Linked DNA regions of Homo sapiens: region 1 is linked to region 2. The links come from fine-mapping of genetic effects on gene expression. A gene starts in region 2. The other region holds a variant in brackets. All regions are shown on one strand. Distances are from middle to middle. Region 1 overlaps DNAJB12 (DnaJ heat shock protein family (Hsp40) member B12). Region 2 holds the start of DNAJB12 (DnaJ heat shock protein family (Hsp40) member B12).

Region 1 (8,645 bases), 24 kb before region 2:
TATACAAAGTTGACATGGGTCAAGCTGAGAGGTGACAGCGTGCTGGCAGTCCTCACAGCCCTCGCTCGCTCTCGGCGCCTCCTCTGCCTGGGCTCCCACTTTGGTGGCACTTGAGGAGCCCTGCAGCCCACCGCTGCACTGTGGGAGCCCCTTTCTGGGCTAGCCAAGGTCAGAGCCGGCTCCCTCAGCTTGCAGGGAGGTGTGGAGGGAGAGGCGCGAGCGGGAACCCGGGCTGCGCGCGGCGCTTGCGGGCCAGCTAGAGTTCCGGGTGGGCGTGGGCTTGGCGGCCCCGCACTCGGAGCAGCCCGCCGGCCCTGCCGCCCCGGGGAATGAGGGGCTTAGCACCCGGGCCAGCGGCTGCGGAGGGTGTACTGGGTCCCCCAGCAGTGCCAGCCCACCGGCGCTGCTCTCGATTTCTCACCGGGTCTTAGCTGCCTTCCTGAGGGGCAGGGCTCGGGACCTGCAGCCCGCCATGCCTGAGCCTCCCACCCCCTCCATGGGCTCCTGTGCGGCCCGAGCCTCCCCGATGAGCGCCGCCCCCTGCTCCACAGCGCCCAGTCCCATCGACCACCCAAGGGCTGAGGAGTGCGGGCCCACAGCGCGGGACTGGCAGGCAGCTCCACCTGCAGCCCCGGTGCACGATCCACTGAGTGAAGCCAGCTGGGCTCCTGAGTCTGGTGGGGACGTGGAGAACCTTTATGTCTAGCTTAGGGATTGTAAATACACCAATCGGCACTCTGTATCTAGCTCAAGGTTTGTGAACACACCAATCAGCACCCTGTGTCTAGCTCAGGGTTTGTGAATGCACCAGTCGACACTCTGTATCTAGCTACTCTGGTGGGGCCTTGGAGAACCTTTGTGTCCATACTCTGTATCTAACTAATCTGGTGGGGATGTGGAGAACCTTTGTGTCTAGCTCAGGGATTGTAAATGCACCAATCAGCGCCCTGTCAAAACAGACCAGTCGGCTCTACCAATCAGCAGGATGTGGGTGGGGCCAGATAAGAGAATAAAAGCACGCTGCCCGAGCCAGCAGTGACAACCTGCTGGGGTCTGCTTCCACACTGTGGACGCTTTGTTCTTTCGCTCTTTGCAATATATCTTGCTACTGCTCACTCTTTGGGTCCACGCTGCTTTTATGAGCTGCAACACTCACTGTAAAGGTCTGCAGCTTCTACTCCTGAAGCCAGCGACGAACAACTCCAGATGTGCCGCTTTAAGAGCTGTAACACTCACCGCAAAGGTCTGCAGCTTCACTCCTGAGCCAGCGAGACCACGAACACACCAAAAGGAAGAAACTCGCGACACATCCAAACATCAGAAGGAACAAACTCCAGACGCGCTACCTTAAGAGCTGTAACACTCACCGCGAGGGTCCGTGGCTTCATTCTTGAAGTCGGTGAGACCAAGAACCCACCAATTCCGGACACAAGGCTAGCAGGGCTGACACCTATAAACTCAGTGGCTGACAGAGGCTGACATCCTTAGTGACTGAACTAGTGAGGTCTGTGGGATGATAATTATAATAAGATTTTTTTTTTGAGACAGAGTCTCGATCTTGTTGCCCAGGCTGGAGTGCAAGGGCGTGGGCTCACTGCAACCTCCGCCTCCTGGGTTCAAGTGATTCTCTTGCATCAGCCTCCTGAGTAGCTGGGATTACAGGCGTGCGCCACCACACCTGGTAATTTTGTATTTTTAGTAGAGACAGGTTTCGCTGTGTTGGTCAGGGTGGTCTTGAACTCTTGACCGCAAGTGATCCACCTGCTTCAGCCTCCCAAAGTGCTGGGATTATAGGCGTGAGTCACCACGCCTAGCCTATAATAAGATTTTTTTTTTTTTGAGACGGAGTCTCACTCCGTTGCCAGGCTGGAGTACAGTGGCACAATCTCGGCTCACTGCAACCTCCGCCTCCTGGGTTCAAGCCATTCTCCTGCCTCAACCTCCTGAGTAGCTGGGACTACCAGCATGTGCCACCAACACCCAGCTAATTTTTGTATTTTTAGTAGAGACGGGGTTTCACCATGTTGGCCAGGATGATCTCGATCTCTTGACCTCTTGGTCCACCCGCCTCGGCCTCGAAAAATGCTGGGATTACAGGCGTGAGCCACCTCACCCAGCCGATAATAAGATTTTATAAGTAAATGATACAGATGAAAAGTGCCTCCTGGCCTAGCGTGTCCATGGCGGAGGCTGGAACTCCGATCTTTGGGCTCAGTGCTTCCATGCCAAGGTGGGACCAGAGAGAGACTGAGGACTAAAGACATCCACAGAGAAGCAGCTCTGAGCACCTGCGGTGGCCTCCCAAGGCCTGTCACTCACAGCCTGAACACCATGGACACACTTGCTGCCCATGTGGCCCCTGCAGTGGTGGTAGCTGGCTTGTTTGACTTGTGGCTGGAAGCAAAATTAGGGCCCACGATGCCACCTTCTGCACGCAGGCCATGGGCTGGCAGCCAGCAGATGGCAGAGCCTGCCAGAGGTGATTCCAGGGCTTGTGGCCAGGGCAGCACTGGGGCGGCCGGGGACAGAATTGGGTCTGACTCCAGGAGTGGCTGGCCTGAGTGCTGGAGAGAGCCTCCTCCTCTACCCCTTGGGGTGGTGACCTCTTCGGACAGGAGTCCGCACTCCTCTCAATGACCAATGTTTGTGATTCTCATTTTGGCCCCTGCTACATTTGTCCTTACGCAGGGAGAGGAGACCTGGGGCCTTTTCAGCAGGATCAGCAGGACTCTGCTTCCCCCCGGAGGCAGGAAAAGGAAAAAGCCCCCGCCCAGTGCCCGTCCCATGAGCGACTGCTGCCTCCAGCCACCGTCCAGCTGGATGCACACCGTGGCTGATGGCCCTGGGTCTAAGCCCTCTAAGATCTGGGAGAAGTGTCCCCCAGCCAGGGTGTGGGTTTATGGCTGCAAAGCAGCTCCCTAGGGTGACCCTGGGCAGAGGAGTAGGCGAGGCTGGGAATGCTGCAGGTGGGGACAGTGCCTCAGTGCTGATGGGCCCTTCCTTCACTCAGCCTCCCATGGAGACCCCAGGTTGTGGTGCCCAGGCCCTGGGGCTGCAGCCCTGAACCTCTTCTCCAGGGAAGCCTTTGCCTAAGAACTACACAAATACCTCCAGAACAGGATGTGAGAGGCCCAAAAGGGCCAGGCCAGACCTCCCTGAGGAGGTGGCAGGAGGTTGGGCCCTGAGGGGTGAGAGGAACCTCAGGCAGAAGGGAACCCGGGTAGCAGGGCTCCACGGTGGAGGGAGGGGCTCCGCAGGCTGCAGTCAGGGTGGGAGGGCCCTGCACAGTATGTGGGGCCAGGAGGAGTGCAGGGGAGGTTTTGGGCTGTCAGTGTGGGGGAATGAGGCCGGGCCTGGCCAGCTCCATTCTGGCCCCACTTTCTCCATCTGAAGGAGCCCGCTGCATCCTCCTGTGCTGCCAGGCACCTGTCTCTCAGGCCTCCTCATCTGAGTCCATCAGGAAAATGAGAATAATCCAGTCGAGGTAGTGGGACTGCCAGCTGGGGTCCCTGCAGGCCCTAGCCTGATCCCTGCTCTGACTAGCACGGGCTCCAGTGGGGAGCTGCACCCTGCCTCCTCAAGGAAAAATCCAGCCAGGGAGCAGCCCTGCCCTCCCTCCCTAGGGACTTTGTTTAGACCAAATTGGTAGGAGGGTGGGGAAGGTGGACAAAATGTGGCAGGCCCTCCCCTCCCCAAGCAAAGCCCCAACTCCCGGGCTCTGGGCAGACTAGCCGTGGGGTCCTAGAGAGCGCCTGCCCGCCTGCCCCTCTTCCTGCCTGAGCCCTGGACCTTTATTTCATGCCCAAGTGGCTGTGAGAGTGACAGGAGGTCCAGGCCCTGTCCCTAGGGAAATATCTC[C/T]TTACAAGGGTCTGGGGCGGGAGTGACAGTCCTGTCTGCCCTGTTACCCCCTCCACCACATGGCCTTCTCTCAGCTTATAGAGTTAGTTGCAGCCTCCCTAAGGGCAGGCAGGCCACCAAGAAAGGTTCAGAAATGCTTGCTGAGTGAATTGCTGAGTGGACAGGGTGCAGCCAGGAGTGGAGAAGCTCAGTGTCTCTCATTCATGCCTGGGAAAGTTCTCTGCCCAAGGCCACTGGGTGGGCCTGGCATGATGACAGGTACAGACTGGGGGCCTGGCCTGGGCATTGCTCCCAAATGCGCTCACTTCTGCACTCTCCGGCCTCCGGGCCTCTGCTCATGCTGGAGCACCCACTCCACCCCCACCCCAGTACTGCCTGTACCCACCTCCTTCACAAACGCCAGTTCCTCTATCAAGAGTCCCTGGCTAGAGCCTTCACAACTGCTCCGCTCCCAGGGTTTCTACTCAAGGGCAGTCCTCGTCTCAGTCACCTTGGAGCTTTCACTGCTTGGAATGGGACTTGACACCCAGTCATTGCTCAGCTAATCTTTGTCCACTAAGGACAAACAAGAAACACCCAAATGGCACTCGCCATGTACCAGGCACTGTTCTAAGTGCTTTATATGTGGTAACTTGTTTACTCCTCACAACCATCCTATGAGGTAGGTGTTTGTATCACTCCCATTTTGCAGATGAAGACACTGAGGCAAAGGGCAGTCAAATGACACAGGAAAGCAAAAACTGGCTCCCTCCACCCTTCTAGGGTCTTTGACTGTGCTAGGAATTACATGGACAGATAAAGTGGTTAACAGGAGAAAAATCATATTTAATTACGTACATAGGCATGGGAGCCCCACAAAATATGCAATTTCAAGAAAGATCACATCTTGAGCTACAGAAAAGGAACTGGGGTCCAGGATAACCTTTGTACCTTAAAAAAAAAACCAAAAAAAAAAAAAAAAAAAAAACGGGCTGGGAGCTTCTGGTGGGTGATGGCAATGCAAGTTTGGGAGGGTGAGGGGAGGAACTGCATGGTGAGCAAAAGTTGTCTCGTTATGCAGATAAAAAGTCAGTCTCGGCCAGGCATGGTGGCTCATGCCTGTAATCTCAGCACTTTGGGAGGCTGAGGTGGGCGGATCACGAGGTCAGGAGATCGAGACCATCCTGGCTAACACAGTGAAACCCTGTCTCTACTAAAAATACAAAAAAATTAGCCGGGCGTGGTGGCAGGCACCTGTAGTCCCAGCTACTCGGGAGGCTGAGGCAGGAGAATGGCGTGAACCCGGGAAGCGGAGCTTGCAGTGAGCCGAGATTGCGCCACTGCACTCCAGCCTGGGTGACAGAGCGAGATTCCATCTCAAAAAAAAAAAAAAAGTCAGTCTCTCAGGTCTTAACAGTTGTCTGAGCAGCCCCAAGAATAATAGGCAGTTGTTGTCAATGAGTCAATCCTCCTTGGTAGGTAAGATTTCCAGGAGGGAGTTCAGGACAACTTAGGCAGATGAGGCAACTTCAGAGAAAGCCCTTCCTGCACTTGCTGTTGCTCAAGTGCCCCCAGTTTGAAGTAATCAGCACACCAAAATGGCAGATTTTGGGGTGGCATTTCCTGAACTCCTTCAGGGACACCCAAGGTCACCCAGTCAGTAAATGGCAAAGATCCAGCCTCAGCCCCCGTGGGGGCTGCGAGGCTGCCTCCTGGGGATGACGTTTCCTGGTGCAGCCAGATGGATGCCCGTGTCACTGCCAGGAGACACCTACTGGAATGGGCAGCTGCTCCCTAGGCCAAGCCCATCAGATGAAGTGCCACCATCCTCAGTGTGGCCTTTTCATCCTTTTCCACCCTCCTGGACTCGGGTCTTCTGCCCACTCTACCTGACACCAGTGGGTTTGATTTCCCTGAGTGCAGCAAATTTGGGCTCAGCAACTGTTTGTAGAATGACCACTCTGCTACAAGGACCCCAGAGACAGGCACAGTTTCTTCAAGACCCTGGGCGCCACTTTCCTCCCCCAAGCCTGTTTCCTGCTCTGGGAAATGAGCTGACTTGCTCATGTCACATGGCGTGATGTCTGGTAGGGACGCTGGGTTGCTTCTGAACCATGTCAACAGTCTATTTACCTGATTCTTGGCATGGCTGTGTGCCTGCTCCAGACGCCAGGTGACTTTGTCTGGGCAATGTGGGGTGGGGATGAGGTTACAGGCAGGTCGGGTGTGTGCTCCTTGTCCCTGGAGCAGTTTTTTTTTCTCTGGACCTGGGAGCAGCAAGGGACAAGGCTATAAGCTAGTGGAGCCAGGGAGCTGGGATGCAGTGGCGCGTTCTGCCACCTGACAGTGGGTGGGGGACACTTGTCAAAGCCTTTTTTGCTGCAGTCAGAGCGTGCATCCCACCTCCTCTGGCTCACGGCCAAGCCACACAGGGAGGGCAGGGGGGATGAGGTGGGTGAATGGGGGTGCCTGCAACGCCTCTGCCAACCGCAGCTAACAAGTGGCGGCTTGCACACCAGGGCAGGCAGTGGTGACCCTGGGCAGGGGCAGCCAATGAGCTCCCGGGCCACGGTGGCACCACTGGGCAGCCCGCCTGTCTTTGGCTGGTGCAGCCGCGGGAGGGGCCTGGGTCCGCCAGTCAGGGCTGCCGGGCCCTGTCTCTGGGAGGCCTGGGCAGATCTGCCGCTCCATTCACAGGAGCCCGACCCGACTTGGGCTGCCACATTTTAAACTTTTTCAACCTCCTGGAGAGGAGGGCGGGCTGCGGGGGCGGTTTGGGGGAGGATGGTGGGAAGGACGATGGAAACAAACTCGCAACACTTTTCCCAGGATCTGGCTCCTGAGTGGGATCGAGCTCCAGGCTGGGGCCGGGAATTTCGAATGCTCTGCGGGCACATGGCAGGCCTGAGGGTGTGGGGGGGAGGGATTGGGAGAGGGAAAAGCAGAGGGTGATGGTCGTGGCCCAGATGCCCAGCCAGGACTGGCGCTGGGGACCCCAGGGACCCAGACTGCTCAGGTCCTGCAGCCCCCCAGTCACCTGAGCACCCCTCTGCCTGGATGGAGTTAGTTCTGGAACAGCATGTGTGGCTTAAGTGGCTGTTAGCCAGGGCCAGGGGTCGGGGGAAATTCAGGCTCATCATCTAGAGCTCCTTGTGGCACAGGCTGGACAGTGTCAGCAGCAGCAGGGGCTTGTGCCCCCTCCCCCCCACCCCTTAGGCCTCCCTGCTCAATGCAGACCCACCACGGCCAGTCACATAATAAACATATATTAACAGATGTACAATTTGAGAATTCTAATTCAAGAAATACAGCTTCCAGAGGATCCTTTAGGATCTATGTTCTTATTGCACATGGCTCAGCCCGTCTAGGGACATCTACCAAGACCAGATGGTCGGGGCGTGGGGGCAGAGCACCGGGGCCACAGTGGGTAGGCACTCTGGCCACATCAGTTCTTATAATCTCTCTGGGCTGAAGTGGCTGCTTCATTGCAGGGTTGGACCTTGTTTAAAAACCAGATTTGACATTTCCTTACCGAACTTCCTTTCCCAGCAAGAATCCTATTTGTTGGGGGACTTTTAAAAAAAGAGCCGAGAGAAACTCTGGGAGGGTGGTTATCACCTCCTGGCTGGCAGCTTGGGGAAGTAAGGCTTTGGAAGACGGCGGGCGCAATGACACACCCACCGCCACAGGAAAACATGGTCATTCCAGAAGGCCCAGGAGAAACTGTGGGAATAAATAAAACCTCCCTCCTCCCACTGGCGGCAAGTGCTGTTTTAAGCAAAATCCTCATTTCAATGTGAGGGTAAGAAAACTATTCTGGTTCAGGTGTATCCTTTGTCCAAGGTACGAGAGGAGGCCTGGCGGTCACATCAACAGCGAGTGAAGACAGAGGCAGCCACGGGCACTGCCTTTTCTTCAGGAGTCGAGGAGGCTGCCCTGGGGTCCCGGCACCACTGACTGACTCGGAGGAAGAACTTTCTGAAGTCCTTGGTGCATGACTTAGGAAAAACCAGTGGCAATGATGGAGCTGTGCCCTGTGGCACCTATAAGGCAAAGCCCACTGAGGGACTTAGGGGTGGGGAAATGGTTAGGTAGATCCTGGCCCCCTCTGCAGGCCTTCCCTTCTGTGGGCAGGGGGCTGGAGGGCTCCTGGGCACCAGGACAAAGAGCCCACCAGCGCTGCTGAGAGGGGAGAGGTGGTCTCACCCAAGCAGGTCCTTGTGGGGCCTCTACTGTGACTCAATACTGACCTGGCACCTGCCTCCATGGCCTGCTCCTCTCCAGGTTAACCATAATCCTGAGGCCTTCGCGGGTTCACACTATCATGATTACTGCTGCCATCAAAACCAGGCTGGGGTTTCGGGGGGCTGTGAAAAGCTCTGATGCGACTCTCCTTATGCTGTCAGCTACAGCTAATGTCTAGCAAAAACATCACCAGGGTACCTTCCCCAAACAGGCCTCATTTTCTAAAACATGGAAGAAATCAGCTCAACAACTTAACCAAATCCCTGCAGAGTTTAAAAAGTAGACTATATATATATATATCTTCATATATGCCTATTTACATATAAATAGATATATATACATATACACGCATCTATAAATTACATTCTATGGAGAGTTCTCTTTCTTCCTCCTATCTTTGGCCAGGGCCTCTGGCTTCTCCTGAGAGGTGGCTGGTGGTGGCTCCTGTGAGGGAGGAAAGGCAGCTGGGTGCCCCCTCCCCCAGCCCTTCCCACTGATATCTGCTGCGAGTTTTACATTCTACTTTCGTTGCCATGGTTTCTGTATCCTAGGAGAGAGGCGAT
Region 2 (8,645 bases):
AAAGGAAGGGAATTCGATAGAAGAGAACAGAGCTGCGGTGGAGAGGCACCTGAGGTAGAGCTGAGAGGATTTCTATGGCCAAAGCCACTGAACCCAGACTAGAGTTAGATTTGGCCGGGCAGTGGCTCACACCTGTCATCTCAGCACTTTAGGAGGCCAAGGCAGGAGAATGGATTGAGCTCAGGAGTTCGAGACCAGCCTTGGCAACACAGGAAGACCCTGTCTCTACGAAAATAAAAAAATTAGCCAGGTGTGGTGGCACATGCCTGTGGTCCCGGCTGTTTGGTAGGCTAAGGTGGGAGGATCACTTGGGCCTGGGTGGTTGAGGCTGCAGTGAGCTGTGATTGTGCCACTGCACTCCAGCCTGGGCAACAGAGTGAGACCCTGTCTCAAAAAAAAAAAAAAAAAAAAAAAAAAAAAGACTGCCCGATGGGTTCAAACCTAGCTCTGCCATTTGCTAGAAGGGTCATCTTGGACAAGGTAACTTAGCTCATCTGTGCAAAACTCTATCTCCATCATACAGGCTAAAAGAGGAAATGAGTGAATGCCAGCAAAAAACTCAGCCCAATGCCCAGCAAATATACAGTGTTGTCTCTGACCGTGACTTTGTTAGTAAGTGAGTAGCTGAGTTTCTGGGCTCTGTGTACCTACGGTGCTCACAGTGAGTCAGAAAAGGGCCTGGGATTGGAGATGGACAGCTCTGGGTCTTTGCTGGCTAGCCATGTGGCCTTGCCAGGTTAGCTGGTTCCTGAGTGGAGAGACGATCTCTGCTCTCATAGGAGTGCTCTGAGGGGTAAATAAGATTCTGTGAAATACAGTGAATGGAAGGGGGCTAAGTGCACAGTGGGGCTCATGAAGGTTGACTGACTTGAAGGGTACAACCCCACCCCGGACCTCGCCAGCACCAGAACATCTCTCACTCCTGGACTCTGAATGCAGAATCCCTCAGCAATCCGTCTCCTTTTCCTGTGGGCTGGCCTTCCCAGCTTGGCCTTCATGACTTAGCCCAGAGTCAACCATTTCACAGAACATTGGATAGCCTGAGCTGCAAGGAACCTCAGGATCATCCCAGCCAATCCTCTCTTTGTATGCTGGGGAAACTGAGGCCTACAAATGCTCTCGTGAGCTCCCTGGGAAATCTGGCACCTTCCACATTTGTTACAAAGCCTGAGTCAAAGCCAATGGCTTACCAGGCTGCCAGCTACTGGACAGAAACTCCCAGAAAGGGACTGACTGGCTCCACCATCTCTAGTCTGTGACCTCCCAGCTTAGGGCCCAGCTACTGCTTTGCAGTTTAACTCAGTGCCTCCTTGTCCCACCTCCTGCAGCAGGAGTTTCAAGCCCCCTCACATCCCTTTTTGCTGCAAAGGCCAACAGTGTGAGGTCCCTCATCCTTTCAAGGTTGCTCTGAGCCTCCCCTCTCTCGTGACTCTCCCCTCTCTGCCCTTCCACCTCTCCAAGACCATCCTCTGCCCATGCTCTCGATCCTTCCCTTTTCAACTCTTAACTTGTCCTTTTCCCATGCAGTGCCTGCGGCATCACACAGGGCTGCTCACCACCTGCTGCCATTACCTCTCCATGGCTACCTGGCCGCTGCCCTCTCCGGGGACTGCCTTTTCCTGTTGCTCCATCTCAATCTGTTGCTTCCTCTGCCTTTGCCTGTGGGCTCAGGGCAGGTGTTGCCTGCCATTGTGCCTGCAGCAACTTTCTCTCCATGGTCTATACTTTCCCACAGTGACCTCAGCCATGCACAACTCCAGTGAGCTCCAGGGAACAGACGATACCACACTTTCACCTGTAACCTGGAGCGCTCTCCTGAGTTCCAGGCTGACAGCTCCTTTGGACTATCCCACTGGCACCTCCCACTCTGCTCATCTCTTCCCATCTCAGTTCTTCAGCCTGGTTTCTTCCTGGTCACAGGGGCTTCAATTCTGATTCCCCAGCATCCCATCTGATTCTCCTCTGCACCTCTCTCTCACACAGGCCTGGTGCCTCTTTTCCAGGGACCTTAGCCTTATCCATGACTGCCTTGTCCCAGGCCCTCAGAATATCCAACCAGCTCAAGGCAATTCTCTCCTATTGGCTTCCTGCCCTGAAGCTCTCTTCCCTCTCATTAACCTTTCATGCTGTTCTCTTTTAACAACAGTGCCCGTACTTTATTCCTGCTATCAAAAACCTCAATGGTTTCCTCACTAACTACAGAATAAGGTGAAAATATCTTGGCCTGGTAGAAAAGGATTTCTATGATCTGGCCCCATTTTATTTCCCAAACTTAATCCTCTCTGTATACGAATTACCACCTCCACTGCCTCTAAATCTTGCTACACTTTGATCTCTTCCCCCAAACGTTACAACTTTCAGCTCCTTTGTCTTCTTCCAGGATGCCTTTCCTCAAGTCTCACACCGTCCTCCAAAGCACAATTCAAATGTTAACTCCTGTCATCCCCAAAGCATTCCCTCACTGTGAGATAACATTATTTTTATGCACTTGCTACAGCACTCACTAAACTGCTGATAATTTAATGTTCAGGAGATTGTCCTCCGCACCTCCTCCCCACCATCAGACTGTGAACCCATGGATGATGGGGCCTGATTTTTTCATGCCTGTCCTTAAGTCCTCAGCGTCTAACCTTGGGTTTATTTTTTGTTTAATTACAGTTCTGTCTTGTAATATTTGTTTCTGTAAGTTTTGTCTCTTTCACTAGATTATAAGCTCTTTTGAGGTGAGGGATCACATTTTACCAATCTTGCTAGCACCAAGCAGAGGACTTTGCAAACAAAACATAAATGATCTTCAACAAAAGTCTGCTGCATTGAATGAGCATCTGGGATGAGCCTAAACCCAAAGCAATAGACCGCCACCTAATATATCTGTATTACTCCCCCTGGGGAGGCAGGTAGCCAGCCCAGTGGGTAGCCCTGCCCTCTATTTTTGAAGTAAGATCTTTCCCTGTCCCAGACCTAAACTAATCCCAGGTCTTTGTCAGCTCAGTGGAGGGCTGCAGATGGTAAAGTTTACACGGATGCATAAGGCGTATAGTCTCATAGTCTTTCCAGAAAAGCACAAATATGACAAATATGCATGCAGGTGGTTCTTCTGTCTCAGCAAATTCCAGAGCCTGAGCCCCAGAGAGGACACTCCTTCAAGCTCCTGAACTGGTGCAGGGGCCTGCTGACAGAAAGATCCCCAGAGGCCCTGTGGCCCATCCTTTCTTGGCTGCCTGCTCCTGAGCCCGCAGCAGCATCAGTGTCAGGCAGAATTCTGACAGCTGGAGGATACCACCCCACCACAGAATATGAATTAATTCACAGGGAGGCTCCTCGAGCAGGTTACCTCAGGTGTCCTGGCAAATACAGCCCGAAACCCTCTCCAAGGGGAGGCAAACAGGCCAAAGATCAACCTGCAAGAGTCCGGAGGGAGGAAAGTTCAGCAGTCCAGGCTACCTCTTCCACCAGCGTTCCGCTTTCTCAATCTCATCAGGCGGGCAGGGCCGGTTAGGAGGCTGACTGCTGTTCCTCAATTTCATTTCTTTTCCTTCATAAACATTTACAGAGTCACAGAACATTTTACTTTCTAGCTGTGTCATCCTGGGCATCCCTTACCTCAGAGATTTTCCTCACCCATAGAATAAAGATAATGATCTTTGCTCTGCATCCCTGACTGGCAGGCTCAAGTGAGAAGGCACAGGTGAAGGAGCTTCCTAAACTGCAAAGCCCTATGGGTATTATTGCCAATCACATTATCTGCGCCAACCCTCTAATCTTCCCGAGGAGGAAACCCAAGCTCAGGAAGGTCACGTGGTAGCCGTCAGGATGAGACTGGGCCCTTCGGAGTGCCTGTTATTCCCAGACGGTTTACTGAGTGGTGATCACAAGCACCACCCGGTGTCTCTCTCCCCTCTAGCGTGGATTAAGAAAAACTCCTTGGAAAACTTAGGTTAAAGAAAAAAGAAAGGGTTCCCGGGTGAAGCGAGGTGATGAGTTGTAAAGCCAGCTTCACTCTTCCCTCCCTGGCTCAGGAGGCTCCTGTCCAGGGCAACTCAGCAGCCTCGGCGTCCACATGGCTGACCGCCGCTGGACTCTTGCGGGCGATGGAGGACTGGCGGTGGCTGAGGTCAGCACCTCCCACCAGGCCACCCGCTCCGAATCTCATCATCGGGAGGAGTGAGGGGCCCGGCTTCAGGACAGTCCGAGGCGGCGGACTGGGGTGGGTGCAAAGGCCGGCTTGCATTTTGGGAGAGTGGTCCCTGACCCTCAGCCCGAGAGGTGAGAGGGAGTGAAGATACGGAAGCGCCTTTCCCTGGCGCCCGAAGAACAGAAATGTCTCCCTGTCTAGCGCCCATTCTCTCCCTTAAAGGAGTTATGTTTATTTTCCTGAACTGTAATATTTCCCAGGCCGGCGACTGGCCTGGGCTACCGAACGGCCCCTTGGGAAAAGTAGTTCGAGTTCACTTCCAGGTAAGTTCCCTTCGTCCCGGCTGCCAGCGCGTTTCATTCTCGGAGACCTCAAACCCCAGCGGGCTCCGCCAGCACCCCGAAAGCTGAAGTCCCGGCCGCCCGAGTCTCCAGACGGCTCGCATCCCGCAGAGGAACAAGAGGGAAAAACTACGCCTCCCAGCAGCCACCGCGCGCCTCAGTGCGCAGGCGTAGCCGCGCCTCGCCACCCCTCCCCCTCCCCCAACTGCTCCCGTCGGTCCGTTCCCGTGTTCCCCCCATCAGTTCTAATGTCCCCAGTCTCTCCGGCACCTCACACTCACCGCGAACTCGCGGCGTCGGATACAGCCGCTGTGCCTTCTCCAGGAAGCGGAGCGCCCGGTCGGGCTGGTTGCTCTGGATGGCCTTGAGGGCGATGCTGATACAGCGCTCAGCTTCATCCTTGTTGGATTCCATGGCGGAACCAGAACGCGGAACCAGGGAGGGGGAGGCCGGGCGAGCGAAGGGCTGCGCCACCCGCCGGCGCGTCGCGGGCAGCCGGGCGCGGAGTGATGACATCCACCCTCCGCCCCTCCTTTCCCGAGTTTTGAGCGAGGGTGGAAGTGCTACCGTATGTCTTCTAAGAAAGGGACGGCTGGTGTAGGTGTCAATAATGGTGCACGCCCAGATTCCATGTTCCGGAGGTCTTAGAGTTGAGTATGCGCCAACCCTCTAATCTTCCGGAGGAGGAAACCCAAGCTCAGGAAGGTCACGTGGTAGCCGTCGGGATGAGACTGGGGCCTTCGGAGTGCCTGTTATTCCCAGACGGTTTACTAAGTGGTGATCTATATACGTAATGTAACTACATACGTTTCAGACAAAGGTTATTTATTCACTGAACAGATATTGAGTGCCCACTGTTTGTGAGGCATGGTTTTATGATGGGGATACAGGGGTGAGCAAAACAAAGCTCCTGCTCTCATGGAGCTTACATTCCAGTGTGTGTAGGCTGGGGGAGCTCCAGATAGATTCAGATAGTGATAAAAGCTCTGAAGAAAAATTATGGAAAACACAGGGATAGAGAGTGGGAGGCGCTATTTTAAATAGCGCGATAAAAGAAACCTCTCAGAAGCTGTCATTAACAGGTACCAGAATTCAGGAACGATAACAGGTAGATGTGACTGTCTGGAGGAAGGGTGGTCAGGCCGAAGGAACAGCAAGTGCAAAGGCTCTGAAAAGGGAATTCTCTTGGTGAGTTATAACAGATCAGGAAGGCGAATACATTCTAGGGAGCGTAAAGATTCTACTACAGGCTGGGCGCGGTGGCTCACGCCTGTAATCCCAGCACTTTGAGAGGCCGAGGCGGGCGGATCACTTGAGGTCAGGAGTTCGAGACCAGCCTGACCAACATGGAGAAACCCCGTCTCTACTAAAAATACAAAATTAGCCGGGCATGGTGGCACATGGCCTGTAATCCCACCTACTCGGGAGGCTGAGGCGGGAGAATCGCTTGAACCTGGGAGGTGGAGGTTGCGGTGAGCCAAGATCACACCATTGCACTCCAGCCTGGGCAACAAGAGTGAAACGCCATCTAAAAAAAAAGAAGAAAAAAAAAAGATTCTACTACAGAGTGTAATCCAGTTCTATCATTATCCCGTTCTTCGAGGGCTATCACTCCAGTGAAAGCAATCTTGTGAAGGTTGCCAGTGACCTCCACGTTGCCGAATCCCCGAGTCATCTGTCAGCCCTTACATTGCTTGGCCTTTCAGGCAGGATTTGGTAAGATGCTACTACAGTAATCCGGATGAGAGTCAGGAAGCTACTATTATAATACAGGTGAAAATTAATGGTAACTTGGATAAGGGTGATGGCGGAGGTGGTGAGTAGTAGTAAAATTCTGGATATATTTTGAAGACAGAATGACGCAATGGATGTGGGCTGTGAGAGAAAGAAGATTCAAGGATGATTCCAATGTTTTTGGCTTGATAACTGGAAGAAGAGAATTTCTATTTACTAAAACAAGGAAATGGAAAAGACTACAAAAGCAGTTTGGTGGGGGAATATTAAGGGTTTGATTCAGTTTATGATGCTTTTTAGAATCAAGCAGAGATACAGACTAGGATGTTGTACATACGTAGGGTTTAGGCAAAAAGGACCTGGAAATATAACTTTGGGGCCAGGCACAGTGGCTCACTCCTATAATCCCAACATTTTGGGAGGCCAGGGGTGGGAGGATCACTTGAGGCAAGGAGTTTGAGACCAGCCTGGGCAACAGAGTGAGATCCCATCACTACAAAAAAATAAAAAATTAGCTGGGTGTGGTAGTACACGCCTGTAGTCCCAGCTACTCAGGAGGCTGAGGTGGGAGGATCACTTGAGCATGGGAGGTCAAGGCTGCAGTGAGCTGTGATATATATATATATATATATATATATATATATATATATATATATATATATATATATATATATGCACCAAGGAAGTGAGTGTAGATGGAGAAGAGCAGAGAAGTCTGATTACTGAGCCTCACGAAATCCCAACATTTAAAGATCTGGAAGAGGAAGAAAATCCAGTAAAGGAGAATGTGAAGAAGCAGGTTGTAAGGAAATGAGTAGGTCAGGTATGGTGGCTCATGCCTGTAATCCCAGCACTTGGGGAGGCTGAGGTGGGAGGCTCGCTTTAGCCCAGGAGTTCAAGACCAGCCTGGGCAACATAATGAGACCGCCCCCCCTCACGGTCTCTACAAACAGTTTTTTTAGAAAAGGAGGGAGGGGGGGTCAAACGTCATATCCTGTGGAGAGGCCAAGCAATGTGAGGCCTGAGAAATGACCAATGGATTTGGCAGTGTAGAGGGCAGTGTTGACTTTGACAAAATTGCTTTTATCTATTTCATTTTATTTTTTTGAGACAGGGTCTCACTGTTACCCAGACTGGAGTGCAGTGGCACAGTTATGGCTCACTGCAGCCTCAACTTTCTGGGCTCAAGCAATCCTCCCACCTCCGCCTCCTGAATAGCTGGGACTACAGGAGTGCTCCACCACACCTGGCTAGTTTTTTTTTTAAGTTTTTTTTTAGAGATGGGGTCTCACTGTGTTGCCTAGGCTGGTCTCAAACTTCTAGGCTCAAGTGATCCTCTCACCTCAACCTCCCAAAGTGCTGGGATTACAGGTGTGAGCCACTGTGCCTGACCATAAAATGGCTTTTAGTGTGTGGTAGGGGTGAAAACCCAACAGGAATGGATTCAAGAGAGTAAAGGTGGCTGGGCGCAGTGGCTCAAACCTGTAATCTCAGCACTTTGGGAGGGTGAGGTGGGTGGATCACCTGAGGTCAGGAGTTCAAGACCAGCCTGGCCAACATGGTGAAACCCTATCTCTACTAAAAAAAATTACAAAAATTAGCCAGGTGTGGTGGCATGCGCCTGTACTCCCAGCTACCCAGGAGGATTATGAGCCTGGGAGGTCGAGGCTGCAGGGAGCCATGGTTGCCCCACTACACTCTAGCCTGGGCACAGAGTCAGACCCTGTCTCAATAAATAAATACACACATAAGAAAGAAGCAAGGTCATGGCCTCCTCAGCTATACATGCTCCTTGGAAAATTCTTTCACATCCAACCTTCCTTTCCATTCCCATTTTTCCCTTTCCAATGCAAACCCTTACGACTCCATGCTGGCCTGGTACAGACCCTCCTTGATAAGACAGTCCTACACTTGGAGAAATTTAAGTTCTCTACAAATTGATAGGTCCCTAATGTGTCCATGGATAAATGCTGGGATCCTTTTCAAACAGCCTCTCTGAGGTTTGTTGACCTAGCACGACAATTTCCATCTTCCTGTCTCCTGCTAAGAATCATGAAGTATCCTCTTCCATTTCCTATCATGAGGCCTGTCTTCTCCTGCTGACTACAAGATACAGTCATGTGTCACTTAATGACAGGGATATGTTCTGAGAAAAGTGTTGTTAGGTGATTTTATCACTGTGCGAACATCATAGAGTCCTTATACAAACCTAAGTTGGTATAGCCTGCTACACACCTAGGGTTTAAGGTATGACCTGTTGCTTCTAGGTTACATACCTGTACAGAACATTACCATACCGAATACAATGGGAAGTATTTGTGTATCTAAACATAGAAAAGGTAATGCATTGTGCTATGACCTTATGATGGCTATGAATGTCACTAGGCAATAGGACTTTTTCAGCTCCATTATAATCTTAAGGGACCATTGTCATA

Evidence for each region.
Region 1: its variant is fine-mapped to the expression of DNAJB12 in whole blood (INTERVAL, PIP above 0.99).

What each region holds. Positions count from the first base shown.
Region 1 is chr10:72,325,748-72,334,392 of GRCh38, forward strand. It overlaps DNAJB12 (DnaJ heat shock protein family (Hsp40) member B12), which reads right to left. Exons shown (of 9, transcript NM_017626.7): 9 at 7,116-8,645. Among named protein-coding and RNA genes, the nearest start is that of DNAJB12, 25 kb to the right of the region's middle. RefSeq lists enhancers at 1-19, 2,831-3,030 and a silencer at 6,314-6,563. The variant C/T (reference allele first, on the strand shown) is at 3,859.
Region 2 is chr10:72,350,008-72,358,652 of GRCh38, forward strand. It overlaps DNAJB12 (DnaJ heat shock protein family (Hsp40) member B12), which reads right to left and starts at 4,912. Exons shown (of 9, transcript NM_017626.7): 1 at 4,758-4,912. The coding sequence starts at 4,890. RefSeq lists enhancers at 4,369-4,498, 4,889-5,138.